Homo sapiens: one gene and its partners. The protein of the gene in region 3 purifies or fractionates together with the protein of the main gene of each other region. This does not show direct contact. Each region holds a gene or a part of one and is shown on either strand. Other genes may lie near its edges.

The links.
Region 1: the proteins of SCFD2 (region 3) and NAPA purify together in Homo sapiens (affinity purification with mass spectrometry; 2 studies listed by BioGRID and IntAct, with this or other methods). This does not show direct contact.
Region 2: the proteins of SCFD2 (region 3) and GRK2 purify together in Homo sapiens (affinity purification with mass spectrometry; one large-scale study listed by BioGRID and IntAct). This does not show direct contact.

Annotation. Positions count from the first base shown.
Region 1 is NC_000019.10:47,501,463-47,505,112, forward strand, and holds part of NAPA (alpha-soluble NSF attachment protein), read right to left. Parts: intron 2,041-3,650; coding exon 1,961-2,040; intron 136-1,960; exon of another isoform or gene 1-135. UniProt on the Homo sapiens protein: Required for vesicular transport between the endoplasmic reticulum and the Golgi apparatus. Together with GNA12 promotes CDH5 localization to plasma membrane.
Region 2 is NC_000011.10:67,283,427-67,287,160, reverse strand, and holds the end of GRK2 (beta-adrenergic receptor kinase 1), read right to left. Parts: intron 3,455-3,734; coding exon 3,388-3,454; intron 3,308-3,387; coding exon 3,212-3,307; intron 2,951-3,211; coding exon 2,788-2,950; intron 2,315-2,787; coding exon 2,178-2,314; intron 2,087-2,177; coding exon 1,973-2,086; intron 1,876-1,972; coding exon 1,711-1,875; 3' UTR 605-1,710; downstream 1-604. UniProt on the Homo sapiens protein: Specifically phosphorylates the agonist-occupied form of the beta-adrenergic and closely related receptors, probably inducing a desensitization of them. Key regulator of LPAR1 signaling.
Region 3 is NC_000004.12:53,271,991-53,275,640, reverse strand, and holds part of SCFD2 (sec1 family domain-containing protein 2), read left to right. Parts: intron 1-1,639; coding exon 1,640-1,815; intron 1,816-3,650. UniProt on the Homo sapiens protein: May be involved in protein transport.

The DNA of each region.
Region 1 (3,650 bases), on a different chromosome or scaffold from region 3:
ATGGACAAGGCACTTGCATGAATTGTGAGGCTCATGGAGTTGGGGTCGGACAACACAGAGCCGGCTCCCTCCAGGAGCTGCATGTCCAGAGAGGGAAACAGGATGTGGACAGCAAGAATGAATACATGCAGACCAGTGCCCATGGGCGGAGGGCAGAAGAGACCGTGCCTGAAGCCTCATCCATCCTGTGCTCATCTGCACACGGTCAGCTTCTGTGGGTCCCAAGCCATTCTGCCCACACATCTCCTAACTGACGTTTGGGAGGCAGCAGCATCTCTCCTCCTCCTCGTGCAGCTGACCACCTCCAGCTCAGCTCTGAGGCTTCTCCCCTTCATTCTCCTCCAGCTGAATCTGAGTCAGAGTTTCTAAGCTGGAAGAGGACCAGGAGGCCTGGCCCTATCCTCTTAAGTTTTGAGCAGCAGAAAAGACAAAGCCTTCCGGGTTTTCACTATATGATTTCATTATTTTCAAGAGTTCCAAATTTGAGTATAAAATTACGGCCAGGCGCGGTGGCTCATGCCTGTAATCCCAGCACTTTGGGAGGCCGAGGTGGGCGGATCACGAGATCAGGAGATGGAGACCATCCTGGACAACATGGTAAAACTCTGTCTCTACTAAAAATACAAAAATAAGCTGGGCGTAGTGGCACGTGCCTGTAATCCCAGCTAGTCAAGAGGCTGAGGCAGGAGAATCACTTGAACCAGGGAGGCGGAGGTTGCAGTGAGCCAAGATCGCGCCACTGCACTCCAGCCTGGCAACAGAGCAAGACTGTCTCAAAAAAAAAAAAAAAAAAAAAAAAAAAAAAATTTCAAGAAAAGGGGATATTACCGGGGGGAAATGGCCTAGGGCTTTTCTTTGAAGAGTTTGGGGGCAGAGGTAACAAATTTTAGGGGAAAAGCAACACCTATGTAATTAAAAAATAAGCTTTTTTTCTCTAGAGGAATTTTCTAAGTTTGGGAGCATAAAAATACAAAAAACATTTGGCTTTATTCACAACGTATTTTGTGAAAACTCAGGAATAACTCTTTGAATTTTGGGGAAACCAACAACATTCTCAAAAACGATGATAATCAATTTTATTGTGCACCTCTGCACCCTGCCTCCATGGTCCCACCACCAGGTTCCCTCTCCTCCACAGTCAGAAGTTCCTCCCTGCATTCAAACACTGGGTCTCTTGCCGTATTTCCTTAATTCAATCTTGGTGACATGAAAGATGTATGATGAAATGAGCCTCGAAAGGGCTCAACACACTGGCTTGTTGGACTTCTTGGGCCTGCAGGGAGCTCCAAACAGATCTCCAGCCTCCCTGAGCCCAAGGGGCTCCTCCCCACCCCTCTCCTCTGTGAAGCTATCCTGCCTCACTGGGGCAGGTTAAACACTCAGGCTCTGCAGTCAGAGCCTTGGTTTCTGAATCTTGGTTCTGTCACTTACTAGTTCTGGCATCCTGGGCAAGAGACTAAGCCAAGCCTCAGTTTCCAAATCTGTAAAATAGGGATATTTATAGACTGACCCTTAGGGCTGCTGTGCTAACGCAATTAAATGATGAGCACTTAGGACTCAACAAACAGCAGCCATGATTCACGTTGTTATTGGAATCACCTGAACATCCTCCCCCAGCCTAGAATTTAGACACTGATGGAAGCACTAAGGAAGTTACCAGGAAACCTGAAGTTCTGAATTTAAGGAGGACTCTAAGAGCTCATCAATCCACATGGGTTTATCTAGGTCTAATAATCTATTTATTCCCATCCTCTCTGTCCTTTCACCAAGGCCCCATGACCCAGAGTATAAAGTAACCCAGCAGGCACAAAACAAGAGAGCAGGCCAGTGGCTTTCCGATGCCGGAGAGGGCATACAAAGAGAAAGGGCCCTCAAGGCCAACCTCTCGGGCAGGCCTGTGTGAGTGGAAGCTGAGGGAGGAGGAGAGCACCTTGGAGGAGCTCTAGCGGAGATGACATACCACTCCAGTTTTTGGCCATTTTGAACATGTTTGCTGCTCTGGCGTAGATTTCGCATGCTTCCTCTATTTTGGATGAGCCTCTGGGGAAAAAGGAAAGAAAAAAAGGAGACAATCTAGTCGGCTATCCAGGAGAAAGCAAGCATTCTGCTCCAGTGCCGGGCACAGACGTGCCCCTACCCCTCACCCTTCACCTGTGAAGCCAGCTTCCCCCAGGCCTCTTGAGTCTGTGGCCCCCGCCCCTGCATACAATGGCACACTCACTTCGGGCAGACCAGCTCCCTCCGGGAGTACTGGGGTAGATACTGGGTGCTTGCTGGGGTAGTGGGGCGAAGAGTTCCTGACCCCACCACAACCCCAGGGTCTGACAGCCTCTTCTACTTCCTGCCTGGGATACTAGGGGCCCACTGGGTCCCAGGCGCGCTACAAATCCCCTTTCCCCGGGAGACTGCAAAGCATTCTGGGGGACTAGCCCAGTTTAAGACATCGTGTTGCTTTCGCAGAGGCAGCCTTAATCCTGTGCCTTGCACTCTGTGGTTGCTCAATAAAGACCTTGCAGCCCTGGAGTGTGTCATTACCAGCTCAGGACTGGGCATATATATCACACAGCCATACAAAGAAATGGGAAGCACTATTTTAAAGTGTAGATATAAGATGTTCCCATTTGTGTTTAAAAAAAAAAGAGGGTGGGCTGGGTGTGGTGGTTCATGGCTCCTGTAATCCCAACACTTTGGGAGGCCAAGGTTGGCGGATTGCTTGAGCTCAAGAGTTCGAGACCAGCCTGGGCCACACGGCAAAACCCCAACTCTACAAAAAATACAAAAAATTAGCAGGGTGTGATGGTGCACGCCTGTAGTCCTAGCTACTAGAGAGGCTGATGTGGGAGGATCACTTGAGCCTGGGAGGCAGAGGTTGCAGTAAGCCAAGATCACACCATTGAACTCCAGCCTGGACGACGACAGAGCCAGACCTTGTCTCAAAAAAAAAAAAAAAAAAAAAAAGAGAAAGAGAGTGAAAATAATAGAAACATACATGTTTATATAAACATAGGATATTTCTGGGCAAATACACAAAAACCTAGTAACAGCATTTTTCTCTTAAGGTGAAGCCTGCAGAAGGAGGGCCAGGTGTGGGAGGCAGACTTATTCACTGGACATCCCGTATTTGTACTGTCTGAATTTTTTTTTAACTGTTTGTACATCTTTTCGAGAAAAAAAATATATACATATATACACACACGTGTACATATATACACATGTGTATATATGTGTATGTGTATATATGTGTGTATATATCTATACATTTACACATACACAGACACACACACACACATATTTTTAAGTATTAGGATTTATATTTGGCCCTGTGGTCCAGCAATGAATTACATCTCTAGCAATTTATCCTAAAAAAACTAATCAGAAAAGTTACAAGGATGTTCAGCATAGCATTATTTAAAACAGCAAAACCCCCCAAAAACTTATTGTCCAACAGTAGGGATACACTGGGAGATAGACAGGAATTTGAAAACATAAAGGGTACCCTGTTTGGGCAGCTTCACTCTGGCTTCTTGACCTCCACATGTACATAATGAGCCTCCTCTTGACTTGGGGGACCTCATTAGTACCTCAAACCCGTAAGTCCCACTGCATTCTTCTGCCCTTAATAATACAACCAGGCTTAGCCCGCGAGGTCT
Region 2 (3,734 bases), on a different chromosome or scaffold from region 3:
GGGCTAGGGCAGGGACCTGGGGAAAGGGAAGTTGACCAGAAGCCTCTGGGTAGAGGAGAGGCCTAGTGCTGGGGTTCCCCTCAGGCCTCAGGGACCCCTACTAGGGCTGTGCAGTGAGGCCAGAGAGGAGGCTGAAGCCAGAGATGGCCAAGGGCCCAGAGGCTGCGGTGTGACCTAGAGGGAAGAGGTGCCTTGTGACTGTTTCTGGGGAGGGGCCTCAGCTTGGTGCCTGCTGTGCAGGGGTGTTCTGTGGGCCTGAGACGGTCCCAGTCAGCCCAGACACTGTGCCAGGCCTAACACTGTTGGCACCTCCTCCTGCTTACCTGGGAAGTGGCAGAAGCTGCTCTCTCCTCCCCGGGAAAAGGTGAGGAATGGGCACTGGACAGCCACTAGGTGGAGAGGACTGTCAGCTGGGAGGGGTAGGAGGGGAAGTGGGACCCACTGCCTCACCCCACCTGGAAGATGGCCTGGGCCCGAGCAGACCACCTTGGAAGCCATGGCGGTGGAGGAGACCTGGTACCACCGAGACCCTCCCCATCAGGCCCCAGCCCAGCAGAAGCTGAAAAGGGGTCACCAGGTACAAAAAGAGTCTGAGACAGCCGAATCAGGCACCATTTTTTATAAAAACGCATAGTCTCATTTTTCACTCTTTAAAATCACATTCAAAAATCGGCAAAGAAACGCCCCGGGGAATGAGTAGACGGGAGGGGAGGGTGCGCCAACCCAGCCCCGGGGGGGAGAAGGCGCGACACCACACAGGCAGCGCGACTGGCACGAGGGGGCATGCGGTGGGCGAGGCGGCGGCACTGACAGGACGTGGGCTGTGGGGCTGGCCAGCCTGGGCGGGGGTACACTGATGGGCCAGGATGGGGGGCACACTGATAGGCCCCAGCCAGCCTCCTTGCTGTGCTGCCCGCCCACCTGGCCGGCCCCGTCCTGGGCAGATGGGGTCGCACCCAGCCCAGCATCAGCGAGACCTCAGGCCAGGCGAGGCCAGTATGGCCCAACCTGCAGGTGCCTTGCTGTGGTCCCTGAGCCCGGGTGCTGGGGGTTGGGGCAAGAGGGGACAGCAGGGAGGGTAGCAGCACCTGCTGCCAATGCCACTCTCTCAGCCAAGCCCCGCAGTGTCAGGGAAGTGGGAGTGGAGGCAGCCAGTGACACAGAGGCTTTTCCTGAATAAGGGCACAGGAGCCCGAGTCACTGTGGGAGGCCTTGAGGGCCAGGGAGACAACGGGCCCCTCCTCTCGCCAACACTGTGGAGCAGGACAGTGCAGGGCCTGCCCCTCTGCAGCAGGAGGGGGTGCAGTGGGAAAATTCAAGTCGGATCCCTGTGCTGTGCCTGCCCCTGGTGAGGGGGGATGGGCCACCCAGCAGTGCCCATGGGCACAGAGTGCAGCCCACAGAGCCCAGGGTGGCACAGCTTGGTGTGGCATCATCCCTCGGGGAAGGGGCGGGAGGGCTGTGCTCTTCCCCCACAGGAAGACACTGGGAGCGGGCAGCCCCTGAAGTCAGGACAGAGGGCGCCGGGCAGCGGCTGGGTTGGTGCAGCAGGAGCCGAGGCAAGCGGGCCCCTCCCGGGGGAGCTGGGCCAGGCTGGGGCCACGGGAAATCACAATAATTACAAAATAAAACCTTTTCCGCTTGGCGGGAAAACAAATAATAAAAATTCGACAAAATAAATTAGAGGTTTATAAAAGGCGGGTGGGCGGGTCAGAGGCCGTTGGCACTGCCGCGCTGGACCAGCGGCACCTTGCTCAGCTCCACCACGGGCGAGCGCGGCTTGTTCTTCATCTTGGGCACCCGCTGCACCAGCTGCTGGGCCTCGCGGTAGGCGTCGCGCAGCTCCTTCTTCCACTGCACCAGCTCAGGGTCGCTCTGCACATGCCAAGCCCAGCTCTGTCAGCTGGGGCTCTCCCCAGCCTGCCTGGCCTGGCCCCTCGGCCCTCCCATCCCTGGCTCAGCCCCCACTCACATCGCACTGCAAAATGAACTGTTTCCCACCGCGGATCTTGAGGAGCAGGCACTTGCGCTCCTTGATCTGCGTCTCCTCCACCGACTGGATCTCCTCCATGGTCAGCAGGCTCTGCTGCAGGGCCAGGGATGGGTGGTGCAGGTAAGAGCCGGGCCGGCCAGCCACCCGGAAGCCCGGCTCCCGGACCCCCGCACGGGCTCCTTACCGGGGCCTCGCCCTCGCCCCGCCACTCGAGGCGGTTGGGGAACAGGTAGAAGTACCGCCGCTGCCACTGGGTCAGGAAGGGGTTGCCCATCTTGGACATGTAGCCATGCATGATGCAGTCCTTGCCCAGGGCGTAGTCTGAGGCGAGAGACAGAGGAGACTCAGCCGGCCCCACCTGGGTTTCTTTTTTGTTTTGAGACAGGGTCTCCACTCTGTTGCCCAGGCTGGAGGGCTGTGGCACAATCTTGGCTCACTGCAACCTCCACCTCCCAGGTTCAAACGATCCTCCCGCCTCAGCCTCCCGGGTAGCTGGGAGTACAGGCGCGTGCCACCATGCCCGGCTAATTTTTTTGGTATTTTTTGGTAGAGACAGGGTTTCACCATGTTGGCCAGGCTGGTCTCAAACTCCTGACCTCAAGTGATCTGCGCTCCTTGGCCTCCCAAAGTGCTGGGATTACAGGCGTGAGCCACCATGCCCGGCCCCAGCCTGAGTTTGAATCCCAGAGCCGCCACTTTCTGGCTGTGATCCAGGGTGAGTTCCTTAAACCCGAGCCAGCTGCTCACTTCTAAGCAGGCAGGGGCCTGGTGCCGCAGCAGCCGGCGACCCTCACCTTCCTCATGGCCCAGCTGCTTGTTCTTGGCTTTCTTGCGAGCCTCCAGCCGGTCTGTCTCAGCGTTGATGGTGTCGAAGACAGTCTCTGCCACCTCCTGCTGCCACCGCTCCGAGATGGTGAGGGGGAAGTTGCGGTAGAGCTCCTGATCACTGTCCAGTAACTTTACCAGGTGGATGGGGCAGGGGCACATGGGTGGACAGAGATGCCGGAATACCATCAGCCACAGGCTGCCCAGACCCAGGGCCCTGGGTAGGGATGGTCAGTGCAACTGCCACCCCCCAGGGAAGTTGGCCAAGGAGGAACTGAGGCCTACAAGCTGGCAGGGCTGGCACAGGGTCTCACAGGTGATAAGAAGGGAGAGGGATCCTTCCCCAGGCCAGGATCACAGCCTAGGTACAAGAGGCCAGGCAAGGCCCAGTACCTTGATTCCTTTTGTGTCCTCCTCATCGAAGGAGCCAATGTCGAAGGCGTCGGCCGCGTTCACCTCCCCTCGTGGGGGGATCAGCGGGGGAGGGTACTGCAGCAGAACAGGGGTCATGGGCATTAGCTCGGGGGTGGGGCTGCAGAGCACCCCCAGTCCCTGCCGCAGACTGTTACCTTCTGCAAGAAGACCATCTGCCAGTCCAGGGAGCGGAAAAAGGGGCTCTCTTTCACCTCCTGAGCCCTGTGGGGAGAGGCCAGTCATCTGGGCTCAGCCCCACCCTGAGTCCCGGGCTTAACTCCTGATTGAGCCACTTTCTGGCTCTGTGAACTTGGGCAAGTTCCTTAAGCCTGAGCTGTTTCCTCATCTCTCAAATGGGAGAACAGAAGTTCCTACATCGTAGGGTTGTGGGTTTTAACACTGGTAAATTTTGCAACCCTATGCCCAGTGCTTAATAAATGTTTGATAAACATAAAAAGCTGCTATCATCATCATCTGTGACAAGGGCCCCTCTGGAAGCCAG
Region 3 (3,650 bases):
TGGAATGATGGGAATGTTCTGTATTTTGACTGTGACAGTGGTTATCCAACCATATCCATTTGTCAAAATTCATAGAACTGTACACTAGAAAAGGCTGAATTTTACTGTATGTAGAAAATACCTTAATAAACCTGATAAAGAAACAAAGTATTAATGAGGTTTTTTTCTATGAGTACTTGAGCAAGCAGATTGTTAGCTTGCTGCTTTGAGAATCAGGAACAAACCCATGCTTTACCAAGGGACCAAAGAAACTCATGAGACTCACCCTCCTACTTATTCCCACTGTTCTTTTTCTTTAAATGCTTACCCTGATAAACTGGTAATGAAGAACTTAAACATTCTTTATCTCTTCAAAAAAATTAATGAAAAGATAGAAAGATATGTTGTAGGCTTTTGAGTTTCATGTGGCAAGGTCTTTACTTTTAGCAAAAACCATTTATTAAGTGATATCTGCCATTTAGCACTGGGTAAGACATTACTTTCTTAGCACGTCAGGCAGGACTAATAGATGCAGCACAAGCCTCGTTTTCTACCTCAAGGAGTTGCCATGAGAATCAGTAAAGGGTGTGTTTGTGTAAGCACTGTGTAAATTGCTAAATAAATGCAGGTGGTTTCATTGCCAAATACTTAACAAGCAAATAACTTGGATTTCAGTTTATAACAAGTTTATAACAAGCAAATAAACTTGGATTTCAGTATCAAAGAACAACCCACAAACATGGCATGGGTGAAACATATAGGAATGAATTACTTGGCTTACATCTATGTTTGGCCCCATTGCCTTTTTGCCTGGTGGGGAGAATCCGATGTCCAAGAGCTTTGCGCATAGCATGGAGGAATGGCAGGAATGAAATTTTACAGACTGGAGAGTGGGAGGAGACTCGGTGGAAAGACAGCTATTGGCAAAACTTGGAGTTAGGGGCTCTGAAGGAGTGAATCCTCAACAGTTTGTGTGTTTGTAGATGTACAAGTGTTTGTATAGTCTCTATGCTTTTATGAGGTAGGCTCTCTTGTTCTAAATGTAGGTGACCATTGTAGCAAATGTGCTGTTCCCCACACCAACCCTTTCTTCTGATACCTCCTCTTCCAGTGGTTTTGCACTGTAGTTCTTGATACATTTTTGTTCCATGTAACTGCTTTTATCTCACGAATATTGTCATGAACTCACTGATATCAATGGTAAAGTTTTAGATGAGAAATAATCTATTTCTCATCTTCTTTTAGGTACATACACACACAATTAGAAATCTTATCTTTTTCCCTCTTAGATTGCTATGTCATATGTCATAAAGAGGTACTCCAAGTTGAGCTCAACAAATATTTATTTGTGTGACTTTATTTGAAAATTTATTTACAGAGTATTACATAATGATAAAATGAATTCTACTGGCAACATGACCTTGGCCAGATCCCTTAATTAGCATCCCTGTTTCCTTACTTGCAAAATGCAGGTATTAATAATAGGACCAGTTTTGCTCTTGTCACTATATAGTTGTAAGAATCACAATAGCTTAGGAAAGCTTGCAGTCAGCTCTGAAGTTCTGCCCAAATACAAGACAGTGGTATTATTAATGGAATCCTTCTCATTATTTGTACTATTCCCAGAAGGGGGTACACTGATAAATTCTTATGTTTCCAGGGAGAGTCACACCGGGACAGCTCATGTCCTATATTCAGCTCTTCAAGAACAACCTCAAAGCTCTAATGAATCATTGTGGCCTCCTCCAGCTTGGACTGGCCACAGCTCAAACGTTGAAACACCCACAGACTGCCAAGTGGGACAACTTTCTGGCTTTTGAAAGGCTCCTTCTTCAGGTATGTTGCTATGGGAACCTCGTGGGATCTTAATAATTAATGTTTTGACTTCCAGAGAAAAACCTTGACATTTATTATAGCCTTAGTAATAAATCATATTGTTGACATGTGCCCTGCTTCATATTCTCTAAGTGCCCCCTAGTTAAAATTCAAGTAGAAACTTTTTTCACACCTGTTTAAAAAAAAATTTTGACAGTAACATCTTTGGCTTCTCATTTAATACCAAGGATGTTTTTTGAGCATTGGACTAACCTCTGGACACCTCTTTCAATTTTATGCCATTTGGACCTTTCTTGCTCTTCATGGCATCTTTATTTGATCCTTGCTACTTTTTCTGTAACATATTATCGCTATTTACATTTCTTCTGACATTACCTAGTTTCTAGTCCTTAAGCAACATATAGCATGTGTCTTAAAATGGCGTTTAGTAAAAAATGAAGGAAGTGATCTCCATTTGTAGTGTTTATACAGATATTTGTATGTGGGATAGGAACTTTTCATGACTGATGAAATATTTTCATGGGAAACTTTTAAAAAAATATGTAGTATGTGTTTTTTAAAATTATGAAGTATTTTTAAAAATTATACAGTACTTTAAAAAGGACAGAGGATTGTGAAGCATAAATGTACATAAAATGGCAAGTATCTGTAAACTTTCCACATAGACTCAATATGATTTATCATTATTTTCATATTTATCATGGATCCTTTTTCATTAAAGAAATAAAACTAGAGATAAAGTTGAAGCATTTTTGATACTATATAACCATCTCTAATCTGATTTTCCTTTTTCTTTCCCTAGAGATAATTACAAGCTCAATTCACTGTTTTTATATTTTTATTAGATGTTTGCTTTCTCATAAATAATATAGAGCATTTATGCTATGGGTTTTAATTTTACATAAGTGATATTATACTATAAATATCCCTAAATAGCTTGCTTTTTTCTCTCAAGGTTCTATTTTTTTTTAATTATACTTTAAGTTTTAGGGTACATGTGCACAACGTGCAGGTTAGTTACATATGTATACATGTGCCACGTTGATGTGCTGCACCCATTAACTCACGTCATTTAACATTAGGTATATCTCCTAATGCTATCCCTCTCCCCTTCCCCCCACCCCACAACAGGCCCCGGTATGTGATGTTCCCCTTCCTGTGTCCATGTATTCTCATTTTTCAATTCCCACCTATGAGTGAGAACATGCGGTGTTTGGTTTTTTGTCCTTGCGATAGTTTGCTGAGAATGATGGTTTCCAGCTTCATCCATGTCCTTACAAAGGACATGAGCTCATCCTTTTTTATGGCTGCATAGTGTTCCATGGTGTGTATGTGCCACATTTTCTTAATCCAGTCTATCATTGTTGGACATTTGGGTTGGTTCCAAGTCTTTGCTATTGTGAATAGTGCTGCAATAAACATACGTGTGCATGTGTCTTTATAGCGGCATGATTTCTAATCCTTTGGGTATATACCCAGTAATGGGATGGCTGGGTCAAATGGTATTTCTAGTTCTAGATCCCTGAGGAATTGCCACACCAACTTCCACAATGGTTGCACTAGTTTACAGTGCCAACAGTGTAAAAGTGTTCCTATTTCTCCACATCCTTTCCAGCACCTGTTGTTTCCTGACTTTTTAATGATCGCCATTCTAACTGGTGTGAGATGGTATCTCATTGTGGTTTTGATTTGCATTTCTCCGATGGCCAGTGATGATGACCATTTTTTCATGTGTCTTATGGCTGCATAAATGTCTTCTTTTGAGAAGTGTCTGTTCATATCCTTTGCCCACTTTTTGATGAGGTTGTTTGTTTTTTTCTTGTAAATGTGTTTGA